Regions from separate parts of the Homo sapiens genome. Here region 1 is linked to region 2. The links come from fine-mapping of genetic effects on gene expression. Tissue or cell type: tibial nerve. Region 2 holds a variant in brackets; the other region holds the start of a gene. All regions are shown on one strand. Distances are from middle to middle.

The links. PIP is the estimated chance that this variant, and not a neighbour inherited with it, causes the effect. A credible set is the group of variants that fine-mapping cannot tell apart.
Region 1: it holds the start of LINC02147, and the variant in region 2 is the best candidate, but not a certain one, in a credible set for the expression of LINC02147 in tibial nerve (GTEx, PIP 0.71).

The regions. Positions count from the first base shown.
Region 1 is chr5:117,728,104-117,733,497 of GRCh38, reverse strand. It overlaps LINC02147 (long intergenic non-protein coding RNA 2147), which reads right to left and starts at 3,137. Exons shown (of 3, transcript NR_104997.1): 1 at 3,090-3,137.
Region 2 is chr5:117,757,890-117,763,283 of GRCh38, reverse strand. The region is part of intron 1 of LINC02147 (long intergenic non-protein coding RNA 2147); the gene reads right to left. Among named protein-coding and RNA genes, the nearest start is that of LINC02147, 30 kb to the right of the region's middle. The variant A/T (reference allele first, on the strand shown) is at 3,051.

The DNA of each region.
Region 1 (5,394 bases), 30 kb after region 2:
TTCAACAAGGACATAAAAACATAAAATCTTTATAACAGACAGGGAAATAACTTTCCTGCAGACTCAAAAATTTGGCAAGTGAAATAGGGCTTACATTAAAAATAATGGAGGCCAATGAACACAAACGTCAATTTATTATATTCTTTCTTCTTTATCACATGTAAATACTTATTTCTTAAATCAACATCTATTTCCTGCAAGATACTTGGCTAGGCAAAAGATTTTTAATGAGCAAAATGACATCAATTTTCCAAAGAAACAGATGAAGAAAACAATATTTTCCATGACACGTCACAACTTCTGCAACAAAAGAGGACACAGGAGATAGATGAGAACAAGGACTCAAGTGGCCCACTTGAGACAGAGAGGAGTTTTGAAGCTACTGAGAAGAGTTTTACACTAACTTTCTTAAATAATGCTTAGGAATTGCCAGTGGGTCAGCTGGGCTGTGAACTTCAGGCCAGGGAAGGTCACAGGCAAACACATACAGTAGGGGCTCCAACCCCTGGGCCACAGACGGGTATCAGTCTGAGGCCTGTTGAGAACTGGGCTTCACATCAGGAGGTGAGCGGCTAGCAAGTGGACAAAGCTTCATCTATATTTACAGCCACTCTCCATCACTGGCATTACCTCCTGAGCTCTAACTCCTGTCAGATCAGCAGCAGCACTGGATTCTATTAAGAGCAAATACAAACCCTATTTGAAGTGCACATGTGAGGGAGCTAGGTTGCGAGCTCCTTATGAGAATCTAGTGCCTGATGATCTGTCACTATCTCCCATCACCCCCGGATGTGACCATCTGATTGCAGGAAAACAAGTTCAGGGCTCCCACTGATTCTACTTCACGGTGAATTGCATAATTATTTCACTATATATTACAATGTAATAGAAATAAAGTGCTCAACAAATGTAATGCACTTGAATCATCCTGAAACAATTTCCCCCCACCCCAGTCTATGGAAAAATTGTCTTCTACAAACCCAGTCACTGGTGCCAAAAAGGTTGGGGACCACTGACACAGAGGCATGAGAAGGCAGATTGTCCAGGATCACTCAAGTGTAGTGGAAGAATTTAAACAGAGTAATCCAGAGGGCAAATAGAAGTTCAGGTTCAGGCCCCTAATGGTCCACCGCAGAATACAGTGACAGCTTACTAAGGCAGTGACAACTGGGACGGAAAGGAGAGAATACATGAGATGTTTAGAAGGTAGAATTAACACAAATTGTTGAAATTGAGCAATGGTGAAAATAAACCCTCACCCGTAATTCAGGACTCGCTCATATTAACTATGAATACATTCATGAAGAAAATTGAATAATGTATTTGAAATAACTGTGCCATCAGGACATATGGCTACTGTAAACCAAAAATTACCTCTGACTTAAATGGCCACTAATTATGTGGCACAACTTCTTTTTCAAGAACTGAGAAGGGATGAAAACACACACGCACACACACACACACACACACAAGCAAATTACAATGAAAAGAGGTACATGTTGGGGTGGAAGGAACAGTAAAATCCTTTGAACCATTCAAATACCTACATGATTTTATAAACCACCTTCCCGTATACTATTTGGTGAATTATCATTAAAAATCTCAAGCAAATCAGGCAGGAACATCATGAAAAAGTCAAATGATTGCAGGTAAAGAAAATTGTTTTAAATAAATGTAGCTTCACTAAACAAAATCTGCTTAATAATTTTGGCTGAAAGCTGCAGATAATATGTAGCAATAGGAGCAGGGAACTTAACATCTCTGCCAAGCAAAAAGAAACAATTCAGCAAGCAACAGTGAACTGATATGCACTAAATAAACAACCAGGCAGAAACACCGCTGTGAGAAAGAGCTTTTTATATAGCTAAGCCAAGCTGGATGGCTTAGAGTTGGAGAAAGAAGTGCTAAATATGTAACAGCCTGGGGCCTCGCTGGACCCAAATAATAGTTATTTCTGAGTAGGTCAAGCAAAAGTCAATAAAAAGGAAAGCAGGAATGGCTGTTGGGTTCATAATAGGACAATAATGCCCTTCTGGGAAAAATGTGAGTTTCAAATAGCCAGAATCGAATACTTAAGTTTCAAATGCTTTATCATAGACCACCAGTTCTGGAAATATCAGTAGAATAGCTAGAAAATAGGTAAATTCTGCCAACCAGAATAATCCCTAATACAGATTCCCTAAGCCAGTGTTTTTAACATGAGTAGAAGAATCACCTGCAATGGAATTACAAGGAAGCTTATTTAGTGGAAATTCCTGGATACCAGCTCAGACTTACCACATCAGAATTTCTAAGGAAGAGGCCTGGTAATTTAATTTTTAATTAAATTTTCAAAAGATTCTTCTGTCTTCTAACACCAGAGAACTTTTATTTTTGCGTATTTTGCATTTTGCTTTGCTTTCAAATGCCATCGTTCACAGATTAGATTCGTCAGAGAGAGAAAGGGAGATAGAAAGGGAGGGAGGGAGATCCGATAGATATATAGCCAATTTCTGGCCCAATTTTTCTTTTGCAGCAAGCAAAGGCTAAAGTAACACTCTGTAACACTTTATAACACTTTATAACACTCTATAAAGCACTAATTAGAAAACAGGTTATTCTGAGATAAAAGAACGTACAGCGAACAATTACTTTATAATCAAGTGTCAGATTGTATGGAGCAGAACATGCCCACTGTATTAGTCTGTTCTCACACTGCTACAAAGATACTACCTGAGACTGGGCAATTTATAAAGAAAAGAGGTGTATTTGTCCGTTTTCACGCTGCTGATAAAGACATAACCCAGACTAGGCACTTTACAAAGGAAAGAAGTTTAATGGAGAACTCACAGTTCCACGTGGCTTAGGAAGCTTCACAATCATGGCAGAAGGCAAAGAGGAGCAAGTCACATCTTACGTGGACAGCGGCCAGAAAGAAAAAAAGAGCTTGTGCAGGCAAACTCCTGTTTATAAAGCCATCAGATTTTGTGAGCTTAGGAACAGCATAGGAAAGACCCTCCCACCGCGTCCCTCCCACAACACGTGGGAATTCAAGATGAGATTTCGGTGGGGACACAGCCAAACCACATCAAGAGGTTTAATTGACTCACAGTTCCGCATGGCTGGGAGGCTTCAGGAAACTTCCAATCATGGCAGAAGGCTAAGGGGAAGCAAGTCACATCTTAAATAGTGGCAGGAGAGAGACAGAGTGAAGAAGGAAGAGCCACTTTTAAAACCATCAGTTCTCCTGAGAACTCACTATCAAGAGAACAGCATAGGGGAACCACCCCCAGGATCCAATCACCTCCCATCAGGTTCCTTCCTTGATACATGGGGATTACAGTTCAAGATGAAAGCCTAACCATATCACCCACAAAGGTGAATCAGAAGCTGGACTTCTCTGTGATTTCTTCCATTCTTCAGTATTCCTGAATCCCTTCCAGTAAAGTTTCTATACAACAATCTATCAGTAAGGCATTATCATTTAACAAACCTTTTAAAAATTATACAGGAAAACATTTGTTGAAGAATTTGGGATAGTATCATCTATAAAAATTTACTTAAGATGATTTTTTTTCCTTTGCTGGTAGGAGAGAAAGCAAGATAATAAATGCACTTAGTAGAATATCATAGTAAACAAATTGTTTAAAGATATATACTTTACTCTCCCGTAAGACTATGCATCTCTTGTACAGACATCCTGGTGAGAAAGTGGAACCCTAAATGGAACACTGAGCTTCAGGCATTTTTATTGGACCTCCGAGGAAAGGTACAGGCAAGTGGGGTCAGGTGTCTGGGATGATTGCAGTTGTCAGTTAAACTCTTGATATAGTTTGGCTGTGTCCCCACCGAAATCTCATCTTGAATTCCCACATGTTGTGGGAGGGACCCGGTGGGAGGTAACTGAATCATGGCGGCAGGTCTTTCTTGTGCTGTTCTCATGATAGTAAGTCTCACAAGATCTGATGGTTTTAAAAACAGAATTTATAAACTTGTGAATATATGGGTATGATGCAAACCCTAAAATCATAAATTCATCTAATAATTGTGATATCTATCTCTATAAGGCATGTATTGAGGGTGAAATTGAACCTGAAGATTTGTTAAATGAAACTATGAAATAAGTTTGTAAAGACATATGCATACTTCACCAACCTGCTCAAATTTAGATCGGCAAACCCTTTCCTCTTGATGGGAATGAATGAATGAAATCTGAATTATGGTCTGCTATTTCTTCTACCAAAAGCCATAAGCTTGAGCCAATAGGTGTGTAATAATTTTCAATGCTATTATTAACAGTGTTTATTTAGTTAATGCTCCTGATGAAATAACAATTTTTGATCTAGATTCTTTAGAGAGTGTTATTTAGAAATTAAGTTTCAAAATTCAAAAATTATTTTAAAAAAGAGTAAACTAGCAGACTCATCTCTTAAATATTAGAGTCACTTCTACATCCCAAACTCTAACCACCCAGCCAAATTTATTACTAATGGGTAGGTACAGAGGGTGTTTAAGAAAAAGATATAGATTACAGCTTTGCTTTATTCTATTTGAAAATTACTCAGCTTTGTGCCCAGCTGAACTCACTAAATTTCAGCTGTACCCAACATAGAATGTGAGGTGGATTCAGTTCTGTCCCACAGCTGACCAGCAACTACAGAAAGATTGAAGCCACTGACCTCAGGGTATGACTATAACCTCGGGGACAATAAGTAAGCAGGTAGTCCCCAGGTTGGGGCCAGACTTAAATGCTCCCATCAGAACTTCCTTGAAGAGCATAAATGTCCTATTAGTATATTTTATTTCTTTGAGATTTGTTATAGTGAAACTTTAGTAGCAAAAACATTCAAAAATATTTATGACTTAGAAAATACTTTGACTCACATTTTCCTCACCAATTTGGTTGTAATTTGGATAAAATATGAAACAGTCCCTTTTTACTTCTAAAGAAAAAAGAATGGAGAATTTTCCACAAAGAGTTACCAGTGATAACCACCTTTGTGAATTAACTATAAAAAAGAAATACCAACATTATGAGTCCTGGGCAGACTATTCATCCTTCTTTTCCATCACTTTATCTCTCTAAGAAAAAAAACACAGTTACAGGTTAACTAGGAAAATCTATAATTTAAAAAAACCTTTTTTTTTTTTTTTTGTAGAGCTTTGTATCAAAGAGCAATTGCATTCCACCTATGTACCACAGTAATACTGGTCAACATCTGTTTTTTCCACATATCTCCTAAAAAGTTATGTGTAGTCTTCCTAAAAATTGTCTAACAAGCAGTACTGAAATAGTTGTTAAAGTATTATAACAAATAATGCTCCTTTTCTCTTCCAGGTACTCAAAAATCCTGATCCATAGGAAAAATCCACATCCAAATGCAAGGTTTGCTCAAGTTCATTTTCATTATAATG
Region 2 (5,394 bases):
CAAAACGAAACAAAATCCAAATAAACATGTTTAAGTACCACTTGCTTGTGGTTATACAGTGTCTGATAACATGAGATAAGATTTGTAACTGTGTGTATTTTGCTACCTTTTGTTGAAGTATATACAGAAAAGTATACAGAATATAATTTTATTGCCTAATACATTTCACAAACTAAGCACCTTCAAAAACCAATGTCTAGATCTAGGAAGGAAACATTACTCACACTCCCATTAAGAAACAGAAACATACCTGCACATCCCCAAGCTAGAAGTACTCCTAGTTAGTGCCTAACCCATCACTAACTCTAAAGAGGGCAAGCCCTATCTGATTTTGTAATTAAAATGAATGCTGCTATTCATTCATATCATGAAGGTTTGCATAGCAATCACTTTTAGAGTGATCTAAACAATAATAAAACAAGCTAATCATGTGAAGGCTGTATAAAAACGTTTCAGTCACATGACCAAGCTTCAGAAGAGACTCTAGGGTTTGCGCATGTTCAGGAAATTAAGGACAAAGAAAACAGACCCGGGTGAATTAAGGGGATGAGATACGAGAGAAACAGAGATGTGTCTAGAGGTCAGGCCACCTAGCACTTTATGGGCCAAGCAAAGACTTCCTGAGATTCATGTTAAGAACTCTGCCTCTGGGCTCATTCTATTATTTTGAGCGGGGTGGTAATGGAGGGGTTTTTTTATGATATTGTCTCTTAAACTTTTTTTCTTAACATATCAATATATTTGGCATACAGAGGAAATTGAAAGCTGATGAAATCGCTATGTTATTTTAAAGGTTCCTTTTTTCTCTTCCTTTGCCTATGACTTTTTAAAAGATAGGACTTATTGCATTCTCTTTTATCTATTCTCATTTTTATTTATTTGGGTTTATTTTGTAGATTTAGAGAAACAGAGGTAGTGTTCTCAAGCATCATGCCCCCCTCTTACTATGAAGGTTCCAGTTATTTTTTGAATGAGAAATAAATATATGAATCAAAACCATCTAAATCATTATTGCCTCCCTGTGAATTTTTCAATGGTTAATTTCAAAATAAGTTATATAATTGAACATATTTTTCTAAATGCAGACACACCTCTTACTGCTGAAAAAGCCAAAAAAAAAAAAAAAAAAAAAAGAATTTTCTAGCCAACAAATGTCAAAGTATGCTGAAACAGAAGTTGAGGTTAACTAGGTTATTTCTTGGGCAAATTTCTACATAAAAACTGAATTAAGGAGAGGAAAAGTGTTGCGATAAGAAAAATGGATGTTGACAATTGGCATGAAAACACACAAAGCCACTGCAGGGGAGAAGCAGAAGCTGTGTCAAATTTACTTTCATGTTTGTATTTGTTTACATAAATCCAAGGAAAGAGATAGCGCATGTTTCACTAGAACTCTCACCTTTGTGGTCTGCACAATAATTAACTAGTGTGAAAAGTAGGAAAAATATGTGTGTATGTAATCAATAAAAACTATATTACTGCGGTGGGAGTTTATAGGAGACAAAAAAATGTGAAGCTCAACCTATCCATTACTTTCTAAACTTAACAACTCTAATAAGCAACAGGAGAAAGGTAGAGAGTTGGACAGTTTGATTTGCTTATGTTGTAACAATAAAATATAACAGCATTGAGTTTTTACTCTATAAAATATTACAAATATATGCCTGACCACATTACTGCATCAGATTTCTCTTAACCAATACATGAGCTCTTCCCAGTCTCTGATCATCTTTCTATACCCAATGCTAGCCTAGATTTAGAGAGAAAGACAGGAGCTGAATGAAATGTCAAGGAGGCCAAGGCAGCTAGCAATGTCAGGGCAGAGTACAAGAGAGGAGAGGGCCTTACAGAGAGAGCTCTGGAGAGCAACAGAGTACTCCCCCAGGTCTTCCGTTGAGAACTGGTCAGCAGGATTGCTCAGCAAATTGGTTGTTTCTAAACCACTCTCTTAACCACTGTGAGGTTAACCCACAGAAATACAGAGCAGAGCTAAGGTCTTTCATCTGCATTTAGATACTCTAGTCCCTCTTTTTATTTCCCGATTAAGTAAGCATTATTATGAATTACTTTTCACCAGTTCAGATTTTAAACTTGCTATCTTTTAGAAGAAACCTCCAGCACCCGGTGTTCATCAGAGGGTCACTGGAACCCAGAAAATTAGACCTTCTCTTTTTCATCAGTGCTGCACAATGAATAAAATAGAAATAGAGTATATAGGCAGACCCATCCACACTAGACTAGCCTTTTTTGTCATCTAGTAAAACTCTGTGTCCTCAAATATATTAAAAATAAGCATAGAATTGCATAGCTACATCATCAGTTTATTAATAAATTTAAAAAAACAAATCATTTACTTTAAATTTTCACTATTGATATCTCTTGTAAATGAAGAGTAAAACCAGACGGTTTTTTTTTTTATTTTAAGGACAATTATATCGAATAATCAGAGAGTCAAAAAAGATTTCATAGAAAGAACAACAAACAGATTTGAAAAGACTGGCTTATAGTAAAAGTTTTGCCAAATTCTATCATCGGAGTCATAATTTCTCTTGTTTGAAATTCCTCACTTGTAAAAAATACGCGTGCAAGAATAATCTAAAAGATTCAGCATTATAATCTCATGAGTTTTAAGCTATCTGAAACAATTTTCAAGAGACAAATCTAACATGTAGTCTCAGAGTTTTCAGTATTTACTTTCACCAGATACCTTATTTTAAAAATGTTCTTATTTCTTGACCTTTTCCTTCAGATAAATTGTATTAGATTAACACAAATCATTTTATTGAAAAATGTCTACAACTACTCCAAACTTAGACATTGATCTAAAGGAAAAATGAATTTGGAATCATTTAAGATATTTTACAAACTTACCATTTAGTTTTGTCTTTTTCTCGACTTCTAAATTATCTGACTTTCTGGAAACCACATCTGTCAGTTTTATAAACATAGGAAGGAAGACTTTTATTATGATTAGGCAGTTACGCCTTCCCCATGAGGTAATCTCAAAAAACATCTACTCTCATGAAAGTAAAAGTTCAAAGAGATCTGGA[A/T]AATTTTCTGATAAACATCCTCTGTATTTCATGTTTTAATCATGATGCAGCTTTTATGCTTGGTAATTATTCAGACAATTCTAATGACAGAATCACGGGTTTGTATAATACAGAGATAAATAAAAGTTTTCACAGATTAGCCCATGAACCACCCCCCCAACAGGAAAACATTCAGATTTGTTCCACCCTATGAAAATGCATGCAGGCATCATCAACTCTTCCAGCCTACGCAAGCCATGAATATTCCAGCAAGGAGATGTAAAGCCCTCCTCTCCCCCAGTAGCCCATTTACCACACAATCACATATGTGTGAATAATAATATAATCTCTTAAACTCTATCCCATCAATATCTTTAAACACTTTGAATCTAAGATTAGAAAGTCCTGAGATTTTCACTTACAGTGAAAATGTCTTCTTACTAAATAACACAAATCCATCTACTTTTAGAGGATTAAAAAAAAAAGTTTGCTGTTTTTTTAAGAGATTTCTACTATATTCTTTTAAAATTTCTATTTTCTTCTTTCATTATTTACCTGTTTCTTCCCTAAAATTCCTTCCCATTGACAATTTCTTTCTTAAAATATCAACGTAAGAACGTACACGTAGAGTAAGAGGGTGAACCAATCCATGTCTGGGGGCCCAAACTCTGTTCATTAATTTATATCTGAGGGCAAACTTCCCTCAGGCCAAAGGCATTAACCTTGGGTGAGACCTTAACACCTTTCTACTCCCTTCACCTGGCATGCCTTCTTTTGCCACCACTGCTGGTAGTGAGGCCAACAGGGCTCAATTTTGGACCTGAAGTTGGAAGGATCCCCTGCTAACTTTTTGAAGCGTGAGGCAGATATAATATCAACAATCTGTGGGACACTATTGAAGAATGCAATATTGTAAATGACAATTAAACACTCAACTTAGCCTGCAAATATCCATCTAGCTAATAGTGGTACTTAAAGGTGAGAACATAAGACATTTAAATAGGCTTTACCTCTACTGAGTAATAACATGAATTTCAAGGTCTGGCAGGCTTGGTTTCAAATAAGGATTCTTTCTGGTTTTCTGACTTCAGGCAAGACACTAAATATCTATAAGTCTTGGCTCCTAATTTATGAAATGAGTGTAACAACTGTATCCTCTTCACTGGGAGGGATAAATGAGATAATGTATGTTGAACATATAATATTTAGCATAACTTCTCAGAAAATGCTAGTTATTAGTATCACTATTTATAGGTACATGAAGTTCAGTTCATGAAGTCAGATAGTGTGTCCCCAGTAGTAAAGAGGACACAGAGCATTACACATAGTATGTGCTTCATAGGTATGTGCTGAATTTAAATGACTGTATTCTAATCACTGTTTCTTAAATTATTGTCATGAAAATTCTATTTCATATTCAAAATAAACTTACAAATCAAACTCTGATTTCCAATTTATGAATACACTGCGTAGACTATGGTATTTTCATGTTTCCTTAATATTCTGATAGGACATCAACATTACAAAATACTATCTATGTATGCGTATGTCCCTTCAACCACACACTTGTTTTGTTACAAGATCAATCAGTGGTATGGAGAATAAAAGTTTGGTGTTTCACATGAAGAACATATAATAACATTAAAAAGCAAGAAATAAAGAATGGGTAGAAAGAAATACTTCTCTGCATAAAGCTGAATTAGTGCCTGTAACTAGTTCCCAAAATAAATTATTGAAGCAAATAGTTTACTGTGATTCCAAAAAGCATTAGGCTTAATGAGGCAAAAGTTTGAAAGCGGCTTGCAAATTTACACCTATGGATTTTTCAAAGGAAAATAAGATTTGCCTAAGAAAGTGCTTATTTTGGCAGGCAGAGAAAACAGTGGTGAAAAATTATGGGTTTGTCTCAAAAGCTAAGTTGATTTTGCCTTTTTAAACTGGCTTCAATTAGTTCCATATTTTAAATTTGGTACTGGAAACAAGCTGAGACATTGGTGGACAGAAATAGAAATGGCCACTGCTCTGTAAGCAAAGAACCAGAAATTTCGAATAAATTCTGAGATGATATAAATCTCAGAATTCTCAAATGAATAAATTCTCACCTATTTTGCAAAGAAAGAATTTAGAAAACAGCAGGCAAATAAACCAATATTTATATATCCTACACAAAGGAACATTCAAATGAGGTCAGATTCAGCCCACTGCTTTCTACAGGACAACGAGCTCCACAGTGATGGTTGGTAACTTGCCACTGGCAAGAATCACTACATTTTGGAGTGCTTAACACAAAGTGTTGGGCATCATATTATGTATTTTGCATACATGATTATATTAATTTTTACAAACTTAAGAGGCAACTGTTTGC